2 separate regions of the Homo sapiens genome follow, and region 2 is linked to region 1. Evidence: fine-mapped expression QTL. A gene starts in region 1. The other region holds a variant in brackets. All regions are shown on one strand. Distances are from middle to middle.

Region 1 (11,720 bases):
ATCTCAAGTTTTCTTTATGGAACTTGATAACTCTAAAAGTTCTATCAAATTATAAATTCTAAATGACTACTTCTAAACTCTATATTAAAACTTAAGGCCGTGTGTGGTGGCTCAATCCTGTATTGCTAGTACTTTGGAAGGCTGAGGCTGGAGGATTGCTTGAGGCCAGGAGTTCAAGACCAGCCTGGGCAACACAGCGAGCCCCTGTCTCTACAAAAATAAAGACATAGGAAAAAATTACAAAATTGTATTAAGAGAAATGAGTCCTAAATAACACAGCGAGACCCTGTCTTTACAAAAATACAAATAAATTAGCCAGCCTGGGCACATAGTAAGACCTCGCCTCTACAAAAAATAAGCCAGATGTGATAGAGTGTACCAGTGGTCCCAGCTACTTGGGGCAGTGGGGGGGTGTGGACAGCGGGTGATGGCGGTGGCTGAGGTGGAAGGCTGCAGTTCTAGTTCTTGTATTATCTAGTGTGATATCTGTGATACATACACTCCTCCTTATCTGAGGCAATTAAAGACAAGGTGTCACAGATCACTAAGCACTATAATTGTGCCACTGCACTCCAGCACATCTGGATGTACTGAGGTCATAACAAGGCTTGATGAGGCACATCTCACGCGTGCACATGAAAATCTAATCATCATGCTTATGAGCTGCAAAAGAATTGGAGGCAACATTTTAAAAGTACTTTTTCAGGCTGGGTGCTGTGGTTCACACTTGTAATCCCAGCACTTTGGAAGGCCCAAGCGGGCGGATCATCTGAGGTCATGAGTTAGAGACCAGCCTGGCCAACATGGTGAAACCCCGTCTCTACAAAATACAAAAATTAGCCGGGTGTGGTGGTGCACGCCTGTAGGCCCAGCTACTCGGGAGGCTGAGACAGGAGAATCACTTGAGCTCAGGAGGTGGAGGTTGCAGCGAGCCGAGATCATGCCACTGCACTCCGCCTGGGTAACAGAGTGAGACTCTGTTTTAAAATAAAATAAAAGTACTTTTTCAAAGACATGGCTACTGTTCAGATGCTTGTATTTTTAGGGTGTGTGTGTGTGTGTTAAAAACTTTCCAGTGACTAACACAAGTATTCATTTGTAACCTCAGTGTGTACTGTACGGGGAATTATTCCTGCCAATTTAATTCTAACTCTAAGCCCCTATTCCGGTAGGTAGACAGAAAACAGTTGTAACTGGGGCTCCCTCCCCCTGCCTAGGGCCACATATACATTTAGGGTTTGTATAAGCTACCAGGAAGGATGGGGTAAGGGTCCCCTAATCTTCCAGCTAGGATGATCACCTAGGAGACCGTTTTTGTCCCAAGTCTGACCAGTCTCCGAATGTCTAGTGGTCCAATATTGGGAGCCTTGGTATACCAGGGCTTATTCTTACCATCTGGGACAAAACACGGGCAATAAAAGGAATTTTTCTTAACACTAAATGTAAAGGAATTCAAAGTAAAGTAATTGGCTTTTTAAAGTATATCCTTGGCCAGGCGCGGTGGCTCACGCCTGTAATCCCAGCACTTTGGAAGGCCGAGGCGGATGAATCACTCAAGGTCAGGAGATAGAGACCAGCCTGACCAACATGGCAGAAACCACCGTCTCTATGAAAAATACGAAAATTAGCGGGCATGATGGTGCGTGCCTGTAATGCTAGCTGCTACTCGAGAGGCTAAGGCATGAGAATTGCTTGAACCCAGAAGGCAGAGGTTGCAGTGAGCCGAGATCGTGCCACTGCACTCCAGCCTGTGAAGTGAAACTCTGTCTCAAAAAAAAACCCAACAAAAACCAACGAAACAAAAATAATGATATCCTTCCTACTTTCTTGATGTTAAAATGTCTTTTATGAAATAACCGTAAGATGTTTAATATGTTTAATTTATTTAGCAAAATAAAGTGTTGGTACCTTTATGTCCGTTACAATTTTTGTGTGGATAGAGGGTGGGGAAGGTTGACAAAGATAAAAAAACCTGGACATTAAAGTGGTGAAAACCAATTTTATTCAGTAATTACTAACAGTAGGGGAAAGAGCAGCGTTCCATTTCAATGCAGAGATAATTGAGCAGCTTAAAGAGAGAATAAGGGAGGGGGAAAGAGCCGGAATACATGCAAAACATTTCAAAGTCTGTCAGTATAAAAGTGATTAGATCAGCTGCGTCAGCTAGCTGGCGATTATCACTGAAGTCAGGATTCTACCCTCCCACCAAGAATGGGAGATAGCAACCTTCCAGATGATTAAATTTCAAAGGAATGGCTTTCAGGTCCTTAAGAAAGATACTCCTGAATTGTAGGAGAGAACACATACGTGTCAAGGGGACAGAGGAAGGACTCACAATTGTAAGCTCTTTTTTTGTAAATGCTCCAAGAAAGGGGGTCAAGGGCCTATGGCCAGGTGGGCAGTGTTGAGTTTTCTCTGGGAGACATTTAACCGAGAGGCCCGGGGAGAGATCTGCGGTCATCCTACGAACACGACCTTATGCTGCTACAAGGCTCGCTATAGTTTGGTGGTCTCCTTTTGCTGAGGTTTGGACAAGGTCATTACGTGACAAGAGTTCTGCAGTTCTCATGATCCATATGTCATTATTAGGTAAAATCTGTTAGGTTTAAAATTAATTAGTGTAATCTCTTTGATACCTACATTGCTCCTTAACTGAGGCAATTAAAGACAAGGTGTCACAGATCTCTAAGCACTTCTAGATTCTAAAAACCCATAGCCTCAAAGGAGCACTGCCCCTCAATGCTCACCCCCACACACCTCCCCTTTCTGTTACCTAGAGAAAAAGACCAAGACCTGATGACAAATTTTACCATCAAACTTAAGTGGCGCATGCCAACGGTTCGAAAAGGAGGCTTTTCATCCAGAGAGAACTGCACTGTCCTACGCCATCACAAACCAAACACCTTAACGAAGGCTTGAAAGAAATTCTCAGACCTCCAGATACAGGAGACAGGGGAAAACAGAAGTGCAAGAAAGAACAGCAACTGTTTACCACAAGGGCCTCTGGATAACTTCAAGAAAGCAGTTACCCAAATTAGCTACAGAAAGGCCTAAATTAACTAAAACAGTTACGATAAAACCGAAGTCCTGAGATTTTAATGTAACTCCAAATGTTAACATAGTTTCTTCATAGTACCTTCATAGTACCTTTTGAAAGCTCCCTACAAATTTATTATGGTAAAGTGTGGCTATAAGTACAGGTCCTGTCACTGGCTGCATTCAACTGAAAAAAAAAAAAAAATAGTGCGACCACAGCTCCTGTCACTGGCTGTATTCAACTTTAAAAAAAAAAAAAGGGGCGACTTTTTTTTTTTTTTAAGACGGAGTTTCGCTTTTGTTGCCCAGGCTGGAGCGCAATGACTCGACCTCGGCTCACCGCAACCTCCGCCTCCCGGGTTCAAGCGATTCTCTTGCCTCAGCTTCCCGATTAGCTGGGATTACAGGCATGGGCTACCACGCCTGGCTTATTTTTATTTTTAGTAGAGACTGGGTTTCTCCATGTTGGTCAGGCGGGTATCGAACTCCCGACCTCTGGTGATCTGCCCGCCTCAGCCTCCCAAAGTGCTGGGATTACAGGCGTGAGCCATTACGCCCGGCCTTTATTTTCAATGTATATGTTAATATCAAAAACTTTACATTTCCAATTTAATCCACTCATTGCAATTGTTTTTGAATGCATTCCATTTATGTATTAGTAAAATGTATTATTAAGGAAAGACAAATTAAGTCAGATATTTGGATTAATCATTGAGTCTATCATTTTAGTAAAAAGCAAGGAACTTTCCTTCAGGACTAATATATTAAATAGGCCAAAACACTGACTTGTCATTTAAAAATTTTTTAAGGTCACTTCATAAGTATAAAAAACTCATGCATGGTCGGGCGCGGTGGCTCACGGCTGTAACCCCAGCACTTTGGGAGACCCAGGAGGGCGGATCACCTGAAGTCAGGAGTTCGAGACCAGCCTGGCCAAAATGGGGAAACCCCATCTCTACTAAAAATACAAAAATTAGCCAGGCGTGGTGGCGCGTGCCTGCAGTCCCAGCTACTCGGGAGGCTGAGGCAGGAAAATTGCTTGAACCCAGGAGGCAGAGGTTGCAGTGAGCCGAGAGCGCGACACTGCACTCCAGCCTGGGCGACAGAGGAGACTCCATCTCAGAAAAAAAAAAAAAAAAAAAAAAAAAAAAAAAAAAAAAAGGCATGCCTAATAGTATTTATAAAATACTCGCATACATTTTACATGTTAATATTATTACGAAATAAAGTAACGTTTATATAATTATTTCAATAGCTATTCCTATTTAAGTAATAATTGGGTAAATTTAACAGCAAATACAAGAAAAAACTGCATGGCAAGCTATTTTCCTTAAAACATGATTCTGAACACTAAACGTTACAAAAACAGATACTTGCTACAACTGTGAAGGAGAAACTGCATTTCCCTATTATTACAAGAACAAAGGTTTTCACAAAAAAATTTAAGGACTCTACAGCCGCCTTGTTCTTTGTTATCCCACCCCTGCCCGCCTCGGCTAACGGTTTTGGGGCCCGTTTGCTTGGTGCGTCTGGAACTCCTCGGGCGGCGGGCGTCTCGCAGGAAAAACCGCGGCCCGTACTGCGCCGGGAGCAGAAGCGCTGGTGGCCCTCGTAGGTCCCGTGGGCTGCCTCCCCCTCCTGCAGACACTCGAGGAGCCATCCGGCCGCGTCTCTCGCCGCCCGGCCCCGCCACTAGGCTGCCGCCTCCGCCGCTGCACAGAGAAGGGCGAAGACCCGCCCCTGCAGGTGATTGACGGGCACTCTCCTCCAATGGTCAACGCGCTCGGCCCCGGCGGGCTGGGCAAGGGCCGCGGCTCGCGGAGGAATCTCTCTTGCCCTTTAGTCCCGGGCAAGGTGTTGCGGCCGGCGCCATTTTCTCGAGCCGCCTGTTTCGGGTGCCGCCATGTTGGTGAGGAGAAATCACCGTTACGGCCACTGTCCAAATCCCCGCGTCGCTGCACGCCGCCCGCCCGCTCCCACGCCACAGCCACCGGCGGCGAATAGAGACTAGAGCGGCAGCGCCGGCAGCGCGGGGCCGTTGCCCAGTGTTTGCAGTTAGAGCCCCATCTCTCTGGCGTGGTTGTTAATAGACTGGAAAGTCTGTGTCTGTGTCGCTCACTAGTAACCGTGAGTTTTTACCACTTCGTCACCTGTCGGCGGCGGCCGGGAGCAGGTTCCCGCAGGCGGCGCGGGGGGTCTTCCCCGCGCCCCGCCGCCGCCGGCCTCGCAGACCTGCCCTCCAGCCCCGCCCCGTTCTTGACCAAACATGACAGACTCTGAACATGCAGGGCACGACAGGTCGGGAACCCTTCTTGTCTGTCTTTCTGTCGGATGAGAGGAGGGGTCTGGGGCGGCGGGAGCGGGCCGGGGCCGGGCGCCTCCTGCATGACCTAGACGTCTCTGTGTGGCTCCGTCAGTTCCATGACGCGCACTCTTATGTAAACTGCTGGATCGCGGCCGCGGGGGAGGTCGGCCCGGCCGCGCCCGCCTCCCCGAGCCGGGGTCGCTGCTCGCCAGCGCCGGCCCCGCCCCCGGCCGGGCACGTGCGAGCCCCCCGCCCCCCGGGCGGGCTCCGTGTGCGCCGGGCGGCTCTCAGCGTCCCGGCTCGGTGCTGAGGTCCTGCTTCTGCCCGTCCAGGTGTCGGTGCTCCCGGCCAGATAGGACCAGCCAGGAATTTTCAGGAATGGGTGTTTTGATATTTGACTGCTTCCCGAGAACCGAGAACACCTCTAAAAAAATAAACATTTGGTTTTCAGGGAAGTTTTAAGCAGCACCAAAAGGCCATCTGTTGTATACAGTCTTATCCCTTGGAATTTGAGATGGCAAGTTTCAAGTTTAATATGTTAACACAAAATACTTAGGCTTTGCAGAAACTTAGTTTAGCACAGTTTTACCCTAACGTAAAAACTCCATGGATTATTCCGGCTAGCCCAATTTTCTAGATGGTGTGTATCACTTGAATATTGAGATTCTGATTTTTTATTTTTTGCTCTGTGCCTTAAGAGGCACATTCTTGTTTCCATTCGAGTTTGGGGACATTTACAAAGTATACTGTAGCATACTTAAATTTTGGTTATAATTCAAATTTTCATTCGTATATATCTTTAATAATGCGAAAGGGGGGCTTTCATTCATTAAACTTACTGAAACAAAATCCATTGCATCTGATTCTTACTTAGAATATTAATTTGAAAATCTAGAACCTCACAATTACTCCTTTGTGAATAGAAGTAAGAAAAAATATACGTTTTACTATAGACTATATACATTGCTGAAGTTTTATCTGTAGTAATGTGATCGGCTTGGTAAAGCATCCTAAACACGTTTTTTAAAACCCAGAAGCAAAAATCACAAACACTGCTGAAATTTGAAATATCTAAATACCTAGCAATCTTGAGAGGGATAAAAATGGTATTTCAACAACTTCAGTATTGTAATAATAAAAGTAGATTCCCAGAGGGCACGTCAATCAAAGTGTAAAAATTTTTGGAAAGTAAAATGCACTTTTAAAAATGATAAGCTTGCACTTGGCACATTTTTAATGATTTTTTTAACGTTATCTTTTGTATTAAAAAGGAAATTCTTAGAATGGGTTGACTAATACCTTGCTCTTGAGGTATGGACAAACCAATGATGGGGTTTTGCTAATGGAGCCTAAAATCCTTTTTTTTTTTAATATGGAAGAATATCTGTTCCCCTCTCTTAGTGCACAAAGTAACTTCTATATATGGAGTTATGTATTGTACATCATGAAAAAACAATGCCATCAAATTCAAGTATCAAAATAATTTTGCTGGTAAGGAACTGTGATGACAGACCTTTTAAAGAATTTGAAATTTTAAAATACTGGTTTAGAGGTTAGAAAACTTTAAAGAATTATTTGTAAGATATGTTAATAGGTTGGTAGTAGGAGCTAAAGATTAAGATTAGTCTATTTTATTTAAAATTCGGACTAAAAGTATTTTCTAGTGATTTCTGAAACAAAAAGGTTAGCTCCACTTTAACTTAGCCAATTGTTAAGTGGCATCATTGTGCTGAGATGAAGGAGATGGTTTTTTTTTTTCATGCTTTTTTTGTCAACCCACATGAAAAACAAAACAACTACATCAAAAACAAAGTGAACTAGAAGTCAGGAGAAATTCTACAAGATCAGATCAATGGTTCTAAACCTTCCCTGGGGAACTTTTTTTCTTTAAAGTATTGGCGCTATTTCTGTTGGTCTGGACCTCAGCCTGGGTTTTAAGAGTTCTAAAAGCTCCCCAGGAAATTCTAATATGTGCCAAATTGAGAACCGCTATACTCGATCAGTGTTTCCCAATGATAGTTAATCATCAGAATCACTTTGGGGAATAAATTTTTGTTCTGCCCAGAGCAACTGAATCAGAATCTCTAGGGTATTTTTCATAGGCTCCCTGGGAAATTCTTAAGAAATTTGGGGAAAAAATGGACTAATCTGCGGGCTTCCAAAATACTGTATCTTTCCATATAATAGCTATTTTATGCTGTTATAAAAGTTTCTGTGAATTAAGTGGAGAAAAATATATGAAACTTGGTATATGGAGCTAGGCTTTGTCTCAAGGATTTTATTTTATTTATTTTATTTTTTTGAGACGGAGTCTCGCTCTGTCGCCCAGGCTGGAGTGCAGTGGCACTGTCTCAGCTCACTGCAAGCTCCACTTCCCGCCTTCACACCATTCTCCTGCCTCAGCCTCCTGAGTAGCTGGGATTACAGGCACCCGCCACCACACCTGGCTAATTTTTTGTATTTTTAGTAGAGACCACGTTTCATCATGTTGGACAGGCTGGTCTTGAACTCCTGACCTCAAGTGATCCACCAGCCTTGGCCTCCCAAAGTTTTGGGATTACAGGGGTGAGCCACTGTGCCCAGCCAAGGATATTCTTTTTATAACATTTTCAAAAATTAAGGCATATTGTGTATGCAGGAAAAAAAATGAAGCCTATGATTTATATTTACAATTGCTTTGATTTTATACAAATTAAAATATTACTGTTTATGAGAATGAGATTCTAAATGTAAATGGAATTCACAGAATGCATAATTTTTTTCTCGTTTAAAGAAATAGAGTCTCGCTATATGCCTAGGCTGGTCTTGAACTCCTGGGCTCCAGCCATCCTCCCATTTCAGCCTCCCAGAGTGTTGGGATTACAGGCGTGAGCCACCACGCCTGGCCTTGTACATGTTATATAGTGAACATTTTGCACAAGATTGTTTGCCAAATGAATAATTTAAAAAAAATCCATTTAGTGTACTTTCCTTTAAATATTTTCACACCTGGAGTTAAAACATTGTATTTTATAAGATGTTATTAATATAAAAATACTTCTAATTCTACTTGTGGCTATGTAGAATGTAGTAGAGGACTTTTGCATAAGCCCAGAGCCTAGTTTCTAAAGGTCTTTAGGGATTTAGGGAAATCAGAGGGAGGTATAATTCTGGTCTCTCGTCGTTCAGTTCTTTTTCATTCAGTTCTCTCAGGCACGACTCCAGCCGCTCAGTTTTATATTTCAACTGGATGTTGACCCAATTAAAACAATTCACAACTCCTGAAGACGAAATACTATGAGTCCCTGCTTTGGACACATCTGTAGTAGAGTAGGAAAAGATAAATATAACCCAAGTAATTGTTACAGAATTTTCTGAAATATACTAATGGTAAAAGGTTTTGTAGGGCTTGTACTGGGGAAAAAGATAATTTTTTAGCATGAACCTTTTAAGAGCTTGTGAGTCTCAAAGAGTCTTTAACTGATAGGTGATATGGATAATACTCCCCTTTGGGAGGAGGTTTATAATACATAAACAACCTCCCCACCCTTCCCTCGCAGCTTTCTGTCCTGTACTACAAGAACAACAAAACTCCAACTAGTCAGAATTGCAAGTGGTTTATGGCCCCCCATATAGATTGAAAACTTGCTAAGAGACTGCACTGGAGAACCTGAAAGGATGAGGATGGAAAAGATGATTATACTTTTCATTTGCAACAGGGCTTTCATTTGATTCTCACATTAATCCCATGTGGTAGTTAATTAAGGTAGCATTACAAGGTTCAGTGAATTGTCTGAGATCTCATAAATACAACCTAGATAAGAACCCAGGTATTATTATTTTCAGTCTTGCAATATTATTTTCCTACTTGCAATATTATCTTCACTCTTCATTAAGTTTGCACAGCAAAGTAATGGAATAAGTTCTGGGCTTTAATCCTTGAGTAGTTTGGAATTGTAATGTGCTACATTTGAGAGAGAGCCCTTCATTTTGAATAAAACCTTGGTACTGATCCTGATCTTCTAACTTGGGTTAATGCTCTTCCCCTTTTCATTATTTTTTTCATTTGTGAAATGAAGTAGTTGCACTAGATCATTTTCAATTTTCCTTCCCACTTAAATCAATTTTAATTAAAAAAATTGCAGATGCCTTTTCTCAGATTAGAGTACACTTTTTGCTCCACACAATATCTGGTTTGTAAATTAGTATGTTCCGTGGAGTAAATAACTTTCCTGACTAGCCATTAACTTACTTCTGATTCCTGAATCCACTAATTTAACTATTGTTGAAATTACTAAAGGAAATTTTTCTTTAGCAAATGTAAAACCTCGTATCAGGTCTCAGGTTTGATGTTGTAAAGCACTCTGACTCTCAGGAAGACTCTTTTTTTCCCCCAACCTCTCATAAACAAATATTTCATTCATTATAAAATTTCATTCATTACATTTTCATTCCTCAGACTTAACAGTGTTTCGTCTCTGCTAAGTATAGTGTTAAGCACTGACAAAAGAACTCTGGACACAACATCATGAACTTGCTCTCTGGGATCTTATAATCTAGTTGCAGAAACAGATTGGTAAATACATAGTATAGCACAAGTACTATAATGGAGGCCTGAACTGAGTGCTGTGGGGGTACACAGATGAAGGCTTCTGGGAGACATCATGGCATAACTAGACCTGGAGGATGAATAAAACTTTGGCCAAGTAAATACAGAGATACACGAAAAGCATGGATAAATGGCACAAGTAGGTTCAGGGATGATAAAAGTGTTAGTATGTGGAGAGTGTACAACTATTTTGGGGAATGGGGAAACGGATTAAATTTGGGGCCAGACCCTGAAGGATGTGGGGATCCCATCAAAGTCTTTTAAGCAGGAGAATGATCAGATGCATTTTTTGGTATACTACCTGGGGGATAGGAGGAAATGGACTACAGAAGGGGAGATCAGTAGAAGGAAGACAAGTTAGGAAGCTTTTCAGTCATTTTCATTAAACATGAAGCTTAATATGTATTGTTCTAGGATCAGGAATACAGCAATAAAGAAAAAACTTGGTGTAATGAAACATATTTTCTTGGGAGAGACAGAAAATAAACATGAAAAACAGATGTGTTCAATGGTGATAAAGCAGAAAGGGAGATGGGGAGTCAAGTGGATGTGGGGAGGGTGTTTAGGGAAGCACTTATGAAAGAGTAACATTTGAGCAAAGAGCCCTGATACAAGACAACAATTCAGACCCAAGACATTTGAGGAAAGAGCATCCATATAAAGGGAGTGGGAGGTAGAGAAAGCCTGGACCAGGAATGAGCCTGGTATGATTGAGGAAAACACAAGGGATTTCACTCTTGAGTGACCTGGGAGCTAATGGGGGATTAAACAGAGGAGGGACAGGATCCTCTATGGTATATGGTAAGTGAGTAGTATGGTAAATGAGGTAAATGAATAGTAAAAGGAACTGCTGTGGTAATTTAGGTAACAGATGATGATGGTTTAGGTGAAAATGGTTGGATTGTGGATATGGTTTGATTGGTTTTAGAACCAATAGGATTTACTGGTGGCTGGATGTGGACAATGAGAGAATAGAATGAACCAAAGCTATTGTAAACGTCTAGAAATCAGATGAGGACTTGACCAAAGGCATTGGCAATGAGAAAGTAGGCACAATTCATGAGGTATTTCTTAGCATTGATAGAGTTGGATATAAATATCTGGAATTTTTAGCTGATTGAAATGTTAGTTGAAATGAATGATACCACTCAAGGTATGTGTGTCAAGAGGTATGGAGAAGAGCACAGAAGTTTTTGGAAACCAAGGGAGGAGAAAAGAAGGGATAGTCACAGAGCAGTAAAGAAAAATAAAGGTTAAAAATAGGTCACAGGATGTACATTATCCTAAGTTAAAATATTTTAAGGTTTGAATGAAAGGGTGCTGCAGGGTTTGCAAACTGGTGGGCTTCAGGCCTAAAATCTGCCTATACTGTTGTTTTTGCCTGACAGAATATCTTAAAATATCTGTATTTGAAAGCATTTAAGGCTTGACTTGTGCTCTACACTCCACAGTCTTATCATTCATAGTTTCTTGGCAAACTCACCACTCAAGGTGTGCCTCACTTATTTAGGAGATCTGCCTCACTAGGGTAGACATTTTAGGTTTATGACTCTTAAGTTTTCACCTGGACAGATTGGCTACCAAAAAGAACCTCACAGGTGGGTGACCTTGAATTCACCAGGTCATGCCATCAGTTCAGAGCGGCCGGAGAACTCTGTTCTCTTGTGCATTGATGCCCCCGGAGTTGTGAAACACAGTGGCCCTGCTTTAGTTTTTTTAGATTTAGAAACTGATCAGTGTCAGAGCGATCAGACACAGGAATGTTAATTCATGTTCAAAAATAATAACCAG
Region 2 (11,720 bases), 110 kb before region 1:
CACCGTACCCGGCCAGGAAACCTTGAGAATTTTAGCATTAAGTAGAATGCTGGCACCTCCGGGGAGTGGCCATCTGCCATCTAGAAGACATCACCAGAAACTAACACTGCCGATGCCTTGATCTTGGACTTCTAGCCCCGGAACTGTGAGGAAATAAGTTTCTGTTGTTTGAACAAGCAAACAAAAAGTATGATGCTTGATGCTGCTTTAAGTTAGGTAGCCTTTATCATGATAAGCATGATCCTCCATTTTCTGCCTTTCTATGGCTTAAAAAAAAAATCATCAGAACTGAACATTGACTTTTATTGAATGCCTCTTTAACTCTAGTGAGTTTTTTTTTTTCTTATTTCCCATGTTATATGTCTTTAAAGAATAGGAACCATTGGGCATTCCTGTTTTGCCTGTTTTACATGTATTATTGGCCCTTTGCTTTTAAAAATGTCTAAGAGTGACAGAAAGAAAATGTTTGCCAAGGCCCAGGGTTTTCAGAGCATTAACTTAGAGTGAAGAATTAGAGAGAATCTCTCAGAGTGGCAGCGTGGTGATTATAAGGCTCTTTGGGTTCAAATAACTGTTCATCCACCCGGTCATTTAGAGTCATCCGTCCTGCCTGCATTTTGTTTTTGTCAAGGGGTGAACTGGGGCTACCATGCATGTACTTGGGGCTGTCCAGCGGCAGGTCACTTTTACGTTGCGTTGAGTGAGCTTCAAACGCGGTTTGGACCCCGTGGCTTCGGCGATTTCGGAAGCTCAGACAAGCATGTGGGACTGAGTCAGTCTCAATGGGTGGTGGCGGCGATGTCTTCTCTCCGCAGAACTGTCTCAGCAAACAGCAGCTCCTCTCGGCCATCCGCCAGCTGCAGCAGCTGCTGAAGGGCCAGGAGACACGCTTCGCCGAGGGCATCCGCCACATGAAGAGCCGGCTGGCCGCGCTGCAGAACTCTGTGGGCAGGGTGGGCCCAGATGCCCTTCCAGGTGGGTCCCCACGTCGGCACCGCTGGGGCGGCAGCGCAGCACTCGAGCACTCTCCCCGAGACGCTCCCAGCTGGAGGCCCCTCGTCACCCCTCACCCTTCCCCCATCACCTTCCATCTTCCAACTGTGGCCCCCCCTTTTTTATTTATTATTTATTTATTTATTTATTTTTTTGAGACGGAGTCTCGCTCTGTCGCCCAGGCTGGAGTGCAGTGGCGCGATCTCGGCTCACTGCAAGCTCCGCCTCCCGGGTTCACGCCATTCTCCTGCCTCAGCCTCCCGCGTAGCTGGGACTACAGGCGCCCGCCACCACGCCCGGCTAATTTTTTGTATTTTTAGTAGAGACGGGGTTTCACCTTGTTAGCCAGGATGGTCTCGATCTCCTGACCTCGTGATCCGCCCGCCTCGGCCTCCCAAAGTGCTGGGATGACAGGCGTGGGCCACCGCGCCGGGCCAATCTGTGGCCCATTTGTAAGCCTGGTTGGTGGCAGTGGGGGTGGGGGGAGCACATTAGAAAGGCAGCTGCCCCCTTTCTTCTCCCTCAGCCTCAATGTCACCCCTTTTCTTCTTCAGCCTTTTCATTCTGGCCTTAACAACTATCACGTCTTCATACGGACCAAACTGTTGCAAGGCGCCACTTTTAGATCACGCACTGCTTTTCCCTTCCCCGTCCACAAGTTGGATCCAGTTTTGGTTTTGTTTTCATTTTTGATTTTACTTTAAGATAATTTTTTAGAGCAGTTTTAAGTTCATAGCAGAGTTGAGTGGAAAGCACTGCGTTCCTCCACACCCTCTGTGCGTGCACACACACGCGCACGCACACGCGCACGCACACGCACACGCAGACGCACGCACACGCACACACGCACGCACACACACAAGCACGCGCACACGCACGCACACGCACACACGCGCACGCACACACGCACGCACACGCAGACGCACACGCACGCACACGCACACACGCACGCACACACACGCACACACAAGCACGCATACACGCACGCACACGCGCACACACACACACACACACTCAGCCCGAGCCAGTGCAATACACTGGTTCCAGTCCATGACCAAGGTTGGCTCCAGTGCTTCAGGCGTGAAAGTGCACCCTCCAGGGAGTCCCCGTTAGTACCAGGACGGTTGGGAGGGAAGGGCTGCTGAGGACAAGTTCCACTTGTCTGATGAGGCTACAGCCGACACCCCAGACTCCCTCCCATGAGGGCAGGACTCTGACAGACACAAGGGCACTTTTTCATGCTTGCCCTGTAACAGCTTTCACACCGCCAAGACCCAGAGATGGGCGGCTGGTTTTCCTCCGGTGTCTTAGGGTGCTGGGGGACAGGGGCCAGTCATCATGTTCATTCAAAGTCAGGAGCCTGTGGAATATCTGACATCATTTACTCACTGCAGACACATTTATCAAGGGCTGTCTTTGTTGAGTGAGTTGAAGTTTCCTGGGGAAGGCGTTGGATTTCCTACCTTCTCGGAGATGATGGTGGCAAATCCAGCTCTCAACGGCACTGAGTCCGTTCCTGTTTTCCTTGGCTCCACAGCTGCAGAAATAACCACCAGCCAAGCCTCACACTTTCCAAGGCACTGTGAGGCCCAAGCCCTCACTGGGGCTCCACACACCCCAACTCCATGGTGCAGGCAGGGTGTCTTTCCTTCCTGCCTCAGATGGGGAAACTGAGGCCAAGACAAGTAAGTTAGCGGTCAAGGCCTGACTCCACAAAGCCTTCCTTGTTTTCATGGGGTCAGAGCTGCCTGCGGTCCCTGGGAGTTTCAGTGGAGCCCACAGGGAATGTTATACAATTCCCCTGCCCATGTGAGAGGGCCCTGCCCATGTGAGAGGGCCCTGCCCGCTAGACAGATAGAAAGGCAGTTATTATTACATTATTCATCCTCCTTCCCAAGATTCAGGGGCTTTCATCTCTGAAATGTACAACATTTTTTAAAGTGCCAAATTCTCTTTTTAAAAAATCGCCATCATGTATTGTATTTCTAAGTGTGTGGGGGACCCCGTGCTGGGTACTTTATGCGTGCAGAGGCTGATCCTGTGACAGCCCTGCAGAGGACAGGCAGCTGTCAGGATCCCTTTTCAGGGTGTGGTGGGGGTTGGGCCCGCACCTGGAGGAAAGCCAGACACCTGCCCAGATCAAATGGCACATAGTGGGAAAACTACCTTATTGCTTTTTAAAAGAGAGACAAGGTCTCGCTCTGTCACCCAGGCTGGAGAGCAGTGGAGTGATCCTAGTTCACTGCAGCCTCCCAGGCTCAAGCGATCCTCTCACCTCAGCCTCCTAGGTAGCTAGGATTACAGGTGCACACCACTGCACCTGATTTTGAAAATTTTGTAAAGATGGGGTCTCACTATGTTGCCCAAGCTGATCTTGAACTCCCAGGCTCAAGCGATCCTCCAGCCTCAGCTTCGCAAAGTGCTGGGATTACAGGCGGGTGCTCCTGTGCCAGGCCTGTTTTGCCTTTTTTTTTTTTTTTTAAGGGAATTTGCTGGGAGTCAGGAAGAATAATTTCCAGTTCTGGAGAATTCTTGGTCTTCCTCTCTGGCTTCCATATGAAGTACCTCCCTCCTGTTTCCTGGGTGCATCATCACAACCCATCAGCTTCAGGGTTCATCCAGAGCAGCCTCAGCGGATTCATGTCCCCATGTTGCTGAGACTGCTTAACTGTGGGTCTCACTCCTTACATGCTAACTTCACCTCGGAAGGCGCAGGGAGCTTCGCTGTGGCTCTGCACACTCAGTAGGATGTGCTTCTCGCCAACAGAATCAACCAAAGGACACGTTCCCCTTCTGTCACTAGAGAAGGGCCTTCAGCTCCCATTTGGGATGTGACTACAAATTGATTTTTAATTAATTTGTATCCATTAATCCACTCCATTCACATTTATTAAGCATCTATTAAGTGCCAGATACTGTTCAATCTATTCAGGTATGGTGTATTTGTGAGTTGCAGGTAGTTTTCTTTTGTCGAGGTTTTTAAAGATTTTTCATCCCCAAAGAGACCCTACTATTTTCCCCCAATGCATTTTAAAACTCTTTAACGCAATAAAGTACTAGATGTAAAAAAAAAGAACTATAAAGTAATTTATTTCAGAGGCTGAGGCAGAACCCCGGGAGCAGCCGAGTCCTGGGATGTGAGCTCTCACTCGCTTGCTACTCACAAGGTTATTACCACTGGGGGCCAACTTGGAGCTTTACTCAAGGAAGGCGATGCAGCAATGGGCAGATATTCCCCAATCACCAAAGGCCACCGAGCATCCTCGGAGGGTCCGGCACCTCCCTCCGCCCCAGCTCAGGCTGCCACGGCTGCTCCTCAAAGAACCCTAGGTTGTGTCCGGCCCAGGTGGGATTTTGGGCAGGGCTACACCATCCTGCCAGCTGCACTCCTGGACAGGGAGGCCCATCACGCTCCTTAATGGCCTCTGGTCCAGGACACCCCTGATCAGTGCATCCTCATGGGGGATGCTCAGTGACTCTGTCACTTGCTTTGACCTGCACAGTTGAAGCAACAGTTCTGTTTGTGCCTGTTTAAAATATGAACATGGCAAATGACACTTGGAATTTACCTTAAATGCATTTTAGAAGTGGCTCTGAATTTCCATCTAAACTGAATCCAAATCCAAGCCATCCTAACTTTGGGCATTCCCTCGTCGCCCATGCGTGATGCTCTGTTGCAAAAAGAAGAGGAACAGGCTAGCTTCACCCCGTCTCTCTCCAACCACATCAGTCCTTCGGGAAATCTTCACAGAGCAGCCAGGATTCGAACCATGTCCCTCATGCTCAGCTACTACCCTGGCCTGAGCTTCCCTCCCCTTCCTCTTGTACGGGCACTTCACAATCAAACCGCAGCAGGAGTGCTGCTGAGAGAGACCTCCAGAGGCCCGGTCTCACACGGAGAACAAGTTGCATGGCCTTTTTGTTTTCTTTCCAATGCCCCGTGTAACTCTGAGCTGTCTTGATCCTGTTGCCTGACTCATGTCTAACTACTTTCCACCTCGTCCACTCTATTCCAGTCCTGTTGCCTCCTTGACATTCCTCAGACCTGCCAGGCACATCCCCACCTCAGGATGTTTGACCAGCTGTCCCTCTGCCCTCCCCAGACATCTGTCTGGCTGTGCCTTCACCTTCAACTCGTTCTGGTGAGGCCTGCCCTGACCACTGTATTCAAAATGATGCCCTCTCTCCAGCATCTCCAGCATCATTCCCTGCTTTCATTTTCTACATGGCCCCACACTTCGCCATTGCTTATTATCTCCCCTGCTAGATGGTGGGCTTCCTGAGGGTTGGGTTTTGTCTATTTTGTTCATGGATATAGCCCAAGTCCCTAATATAGTGCCTGCCTAAGTCCCTAATATA[G/A]TGCCTGGCACATAGTAAAGATGCAATAAATAAGGCTCCATTCATTCATTTGTTCAAGAATGATTTATGATTTATCCAGTATTCACTATGTGCCAGGCAGTGGGCTGGTGCTGGGGATACACAGGAACATAGGCCAGATGCATTCTGATGGAGAGGACTGACCGCATATCTAGAAAGAGGCAAGTCAATAAGAAAGTTCGGATGGTTACAGATACTGAGAAGACAGCAGAGTGAGCACCTGGGGAAGAGTGTCTGGGGAGGTCTGGGTTAGGCACGGTGGCCAGGGAACACGCGGGGAGGTGGTGGCATATGAGTGGAAACCTGGAGAGTGAGAAGGAGCCAGTTGTGGAAGCTCTGAGGAAAGAACATTCCAGGCAGAGAGAAGAGCAAAATCCCAGGCCTGGAGCTGGGGCTGAGCCCGGCCTGTTCAGGAGACCTAAAGAAACCCAGGGGGGCTGGAGCCCCAGAAAATCAGAGTGAGTAGGTGGCAGTGATGAAGCGGATCATTGCAGGGTGGGCCTCCCACGCTTCGAGGCCTTGCACACAGCACTTAGTGTCTCTGAGCCCCAGTCTCATCACCTTTTGCTAAGCAGGCATCGTACCACCCATCCCCAAGAGAGCTTTGAGGACTTGATGAGACGCAGCATGCAGAATGACCAGCACAGTGCACAGCCTGCAGCAGGCATGCAACAGAGGGCACTTCGAGATGGGAAGTCCTGTAATTCAGTAATGTCTAAGGGCTGTGGTCCAGGATGAGGAGCTCGTAATCCTTCCATCTCTCCTTACAGTTTCCTGCCCGGCTCTGAACACCCCCGCAGACGGCAGAAAGTTTGGAAGCAAGTACTTAGTGGATCACGAAGTCCATTTTACCTGCAACCCTGGGTTCCGGCTGGTCGGGCCCAGCAGCGTGGTGTGTCTTCCCAATGGCACCTGGACAGGGGAGCAGCCCCACTGTAGAGGTATCGTCTCTCCTTCCCATCCCACTGCGCTGGACCCATCACAGTATAGCAAGGGTTTCTTGCATAGAAAGGGTCATTCCTTGGAACATTTTCTGCTTGGTTCTTTAATCATTCCTCAACCACAGAACAGCAGCCAATGTGCCTGATCACTCACCTCCATGCCAGGTTGGCGCTGGTCTCTATCTGTATGAGCTCACTATATCTTCACAATAATTTAGTCTTGTTTTGCATATGGGGAAACTGAGGCACACAGAGGTTCAAGAACTTGCCTAAGGTTACACAGCTAGGGGGTGGGCGGCACAGTTAAGATGCTTGGCACCTGGACACTCTGACCCCAGAGTCTGCGCTCCTTCACACCACTCTCTGCTCTGGACACCAGTGACTTGTTCTTATCAATGTGAGGGCAAGAAGCTGCTCATGGGTTGGGGAAAGGGACCAGAGGAAGGTACTGCAGGATGATGCTGCTGTGGCTGCTCCGTTCTGGGCCTGCAGTCTGTCTGTGAGGCTGCTGGTAACCTCTGGGGCTGAGGAAACTCCTCAGGTGTCCTTTCTGTCTGCATTGGGACTTGGTATCAAGAGGCTCCAGGAGAGTCCACTGTGTCGGGGAGGCATGAGAAGGCTTCTCTCTGTGCTAGGTTTAAAAACAGCACTTTTTTGATATAGAGGAAAATCAGCCTTGGCACAAAAATCTGTTGGCTTTTCAAAAACCCATGGTCAAAAAAATCTTGGCTACCATTCACCAGTCATTTTCAGAGCAAGGTTCGTGGGACATCTGCTGAGGCAGAATGTCCATGATTCTAGCCAAAGAGTTGAAGGAGAAACACGGACATTATATAAACAAGAAGATTGCAAAAGCAGAGTAGAGAGAGGACTTTGTTTTTGTTTTTGTTTTTGTTTGAGACGGAGTCTCGCTCCGTTGCCCAGTCTGGAGTGCAGTGGCATAATCTCAGCTCACTGCAACCTCTGCCTCCCGGGTTCCAGCGATTCTCCTGCCTCAGCCTCCTGAGTAGCTGGGACTACAGGTGCCCACCACCACGTTCAGCTAACTTTCGTATGTTTAGTAGAAAAGGGATTTCACCATGTTGGCCAGACTGGTCTCCAACTCCTGGCTTCAAGTTATCTGCCTGCCTCGGCCTCCCAAAGTGCTGGGATTACAGGTGTGATCCACCACACCTGGCCAAGAGAGGACTTTGGATGCTTAAATTACTTGAAAACATAGAGGAACTCCAGAAAGTATGCCATCCCTAAAGATGAGTATGGATTGCCATGAGAAGCTCAGGGAAACCAGAATCACATTTACAATTTAGGCTTCTCTTTCCTGACCCCTGGAAAGAGTGATGATGGTTCAAAGGTTGATGACTGGCTCTCAGACCCACCTAGGAACCAGTCAGGAAGTAAAAGTCATGTAACATGCGAACAAAACAGGGGAAATGCCAATATCTGGTATTTACTTACTTGACTCTGAAAGATCTCAAGCCAGGTTAAGCACCTCCTGGGTGATAACCCATGGCGGGGGAGATGGGTACACACAGATATTTCATTTTTATTGTTTTGGGTGTCAGTATTTTTAACTTACAGATTGAGTTACAGACCCTGGTTGGTTTCCTTCTCGGTCTACTCCGCACTTTCAGGACCCATTTGCATTGCCACGTGCAGTCTGCTCCAGTGCCTCTGATAGCTGCCTCGTCCTCTCTGGGGTGCACCCCCACATCTGATCTGTCCACCCCCTGCCATGGGCACCTGATTGCAGTCAACTCCCGGCCACCACAAACAATGTTGACAAGGCCTTCTTATCGCCCTACTTTGTCTCTGGGCTGTGTATCTGTGGCTGGAGAGGGCCTACTGGCTTCAGGCTCGCTTTGAACTGAGCACTGCCTGCCACTCAGCAGAAGGGCTGCACCTGCCCACGCACCCCCAAGCGGTGCTGCAAGCGAAAGCACATCTTACTTATGTGTGTGCTGTTTTTTCTTGCTTGCTCAGATATTATCCAAATATTCTGTCCTCAATGGCGACATACTACAATGCACATCATGTGATTAAAATGAAAAGATGAGTTCATCAGAGATGATAGCAGAAAGAATGCCTTTTTAGGGAGATAGATACAAAACACTGGAGGCCCAGGAACATAGTCGTGAGAAGTGACTCAAGCAAAGGAACATGTGGTTACTTGACAAAGGTGGAGACCCAAAGCGCTCCCCACAGTCCATCTCCATCCTAGTGGCTCGCCAAGAATGCCTTTCTAGAGGATCCTGGGTGTGTCCACGAGCTTCCTTCTTGACCTTGGTTGCTTTAGTTATGCATTTGCACCTGCCTCGCTGCAGCAGGACCCCCTCAATGGAAAAGAGGGTCCTGCCGTGTCCTAACTTGTGCCATGATCTCAAACATTCAGGTCCTCCAGAGTCACCCAGGAAGCTCATGAAAGATAGATTCTGAGGTCTCAAAAGACCGATCCAGTCGGAACTTTTATAGATGAGACCCAAAACATCTGCATTTTTAATATGTTCCCTAAGTAATACTGCTGTTAACTAAATTTTGAGAAGCACCACTTGGTTCGTTCTTGCTATTGCCAGAAGCAGAAAATATATTGAAAATTTTGAAGTGCTAATGCATTTTGGGCCCAAACCAGTCAGAATGACTGCCAGCCACAGGCAAAACAGTAGACAGATGTATGTGTGTCATCTCTGTCCAGGAAAGACACGTTATGTTATGTTATGTTATGTTATGTTATGTTATGTTATGTTATGTTATGTTCACTGCTACTTGCCCTGATGTTTTGGGAAGGCCAAGCCAACTCTTACAAAGATCAGAGCCCACAGCCCTGCTGAGCAGACTTCCCTTTCTTGAGATGTGGAGGGCGGACTTTGCCTGGAGGACCATGGTGCAGAGCAGACGGTCCCACCTGCCAGGCGTCCAGCAAGCCTACTGACCTTTCCCGTGGTCCAACGTGGTATCCTCCCGAGTCTTGCCCTTGGACGTACCAGTTCATTCCAGATGCACCTTGTGCTCGTCTCTCATCTCCCCATAGCCTCCTGCATAGCCCTTTTTCCTTCTACCCTGACTTCCACACCAAAGAGCTGCATGATGCAGCCCACCTTCGGGATGCCTACTCAGACAGCATGTGCTATCAAAAACTTGGGAAGGACTAACTCAGGGAACAAGGTGATGGCCAGTCCAGGATGAGATCTTAGATGGAGATTTTTCTTCTCTTGAAGCATAGATGGGGCCTGGGCATTGACCCCATGGTGGTGATTGAACAAAAATACTCATGTGTTACAACCAAGCTGCTCCAGCAGCTGCTGGCCACGGCCCCTCCTAAGTGAGTAGACTCTGCCTGCACCGACACTTCTGTTCTCAGCAGGAATTGATGTGATTCATGGTTGTTGTCTCCAGCAAGAGCCTCAAAGCGGTGTCAGCCAAACTTGCCAGGAGGGAGAAATAGTGCTCCTGACTGCTGTTTGATGACCAATTGTGACAGTATTAAGGGTGTGGACGGGACACAGGCTGGAACTCAACAATCTAGTGACCAAACCTAGAAACTTACCAGCAACCACTGAGCACACCCACTGCATGTTCCAAACCACCAGTCGTGTGGTTGCCATGTGTTATGACCACAGAGTGGGGGTGGGGCATAATCTTCTTAATTACAGAGAATTCATTTCAAGGCCCAAAATATCAGTGCCAGTGACAAATTTGGCAGTGCTGTCATAATTGTCCCTCACTCCAACTCTAGTCAGCTGCTTGGAAAGACAGTGATGAACCCAACTTGGCAGGGAAGGAAATTGTGTGTACACAATTACGCCATTAAAAAACAGCAGGCAGGCCAGGAGCGGTGGCTCACGCCTGTAATCCCGGCACTTTGTGAGGCCAGGGCAGCAGATCACCTGAGGTCAGGAGTTCAAGACCAGCCTGGCCAACGTGGTGAAACCCCATCTCTACTAAAAAATACAAAAATTAGCTAGGCGTGGTGGTGGGCACCTGTAATCCCAGCTACTCAGGAGGCTGAGGCAGGGAGAATTGCTTGAACCTGGGAGGCAGAAGTTGCAGTGAGCCGAAATCACACCACTGCACTCCAGCCTGGGTGACACAGCAAGACTCCGTCTCGGGAGAAAAACAAACAAACAAAAACAAACAAAACAAAACAAAAAAACAGCAGGCGTAGGTGGACTCCAGAACTCCAGAGTGGAAAGCAGCCACTTGGCTTTCTCCATTTCTCCTTTATTTTCCTTTTTTCCTCCTCCTTTCTCTGAAGGCCATGTTTTTAAGACGTAAAGCTTTCTGAATTGGTAACCATAGCTGAAGATCTTGTGCCTTTGACAACGTGGGTAACCAAAGAAACGAATTTGAGAGATATAAATACCGTTGTCACTTATCGTCATGCTGGTGGAAAGGAATCTTTGTCAGTCGTCCCCACCCTTTATTTTTAACCTTCATTCTTTCATTCAGCCAATTTTTACTGAGCACCAGCCATTCACAAAGCTGGTGCCAGATGCCAGGGACTCAATGTCGAATCCCACAGACACGACCCTGGCCTCTGGGGTGCACAGGCTAAGAGGGGAGGCAAAGCAAAGCAGGCAGCCACACACCAAGGGAAGCGAGCTGACGTTTGTGGTGAGGGCCACACATGACCTAACAAGGGACAGAGTAAACAGCACGGGGCAAGGAGCAGTTGAGGGCCTCTGAGCAGGGGACAATGACACTGAGATGAAAGGAGGAATGGGATCTAGCCAGGCAAAGAGCAGGTAGTTGGGCAGCACAGGGCAGACACTGTTTTAAGAAAAGGAAGAAGGGGCCAGGCGCGGTGGTTCATGCCTGTAATCCTAGCACTTTGGGAGGCCGAGGTGGATGGATGACTTGAGGTCAGGAGTTCGAGACTAGCCTGGCCAACATGGTGAAACCCCGTCTCTAATAAAAATGTAAAAAGTTAGCTGGGTGTGGTGGCAGGCGCCTGTAATCTCAGCTACTTGGGAGGCTGAGGCAGAAGAATCGCTTGAACCCGGGAGGCGGAGATTGCAGTGAGCTGAGATCGCACCATTGCACTCCAGCCTGGGTGACAAGAGCAAAACTCCATCTCAAACAAAACAAAACAAAACAAAAACAGAAAAGAAAAGAAAAGAAAAAGAAAAGGTGAGTGGATCACTTGAGGTCAGGAGTTCGAGACCAGCCTGGCCAACTTGGCAAAACCTCATCTGTACTAAAAATACAAAAATTAGCCGGGCATGGTGGCATGCGCCTGTAATCCCAGCTACTCTGGAGGCTGAGCTGGGAGAATCACTTGAACCCGGGAGGCAGAGATTGCAGTGAGTCGAGATCATGCTACTGCACTCCAGCCTGGGTGACAGAGTGAGACCCTGTCTCGAAAGTGAAAAAAAAAAAAAAAGAAAAGAAAAGGAAGGAGAATGAGCAAAGACC

The links.
Region 2: its variant is fine-mapped to the expression of ZC3H6 in whole blood (TOPMed, PIP 0.99).

What each region holds. Positions count from the first base shown.
Region 1 is chr2:112,270,693-112,282,412 of GRCh38, forward strand. ZC3H6 (zinc finger CCCH-type containing 6) reads left to right here and starts at 4,905. Exons shown (of 12, transcript NM_198581.3): 1 at 4,905-5,334. The coding sequence starts at 5,303. It also overlaps the pseudogene LOC124906182. RefSeq lists enhancers at 4,607-5,179, 4,795-5,004 and a silencer at 5,195-5,674.
Region 2 is chr2:112,158,861-112,170,580 of GRCh38, forward strand. It overlaps FBLN7 (fibulin 7), which reads left to right. Exons shown (of 8, transcript NM_153214.3): 2 at 816-975; 3 at 6,141-6,311. Among named protein-coding and RNA genes, the nearest start is that of FBLN7, 26 kb to the left of the region's middle. RefSeq lists an enhancer at 9,444-9,957. The variant G/A (reference allele first, on the strand shown) is at 5,353.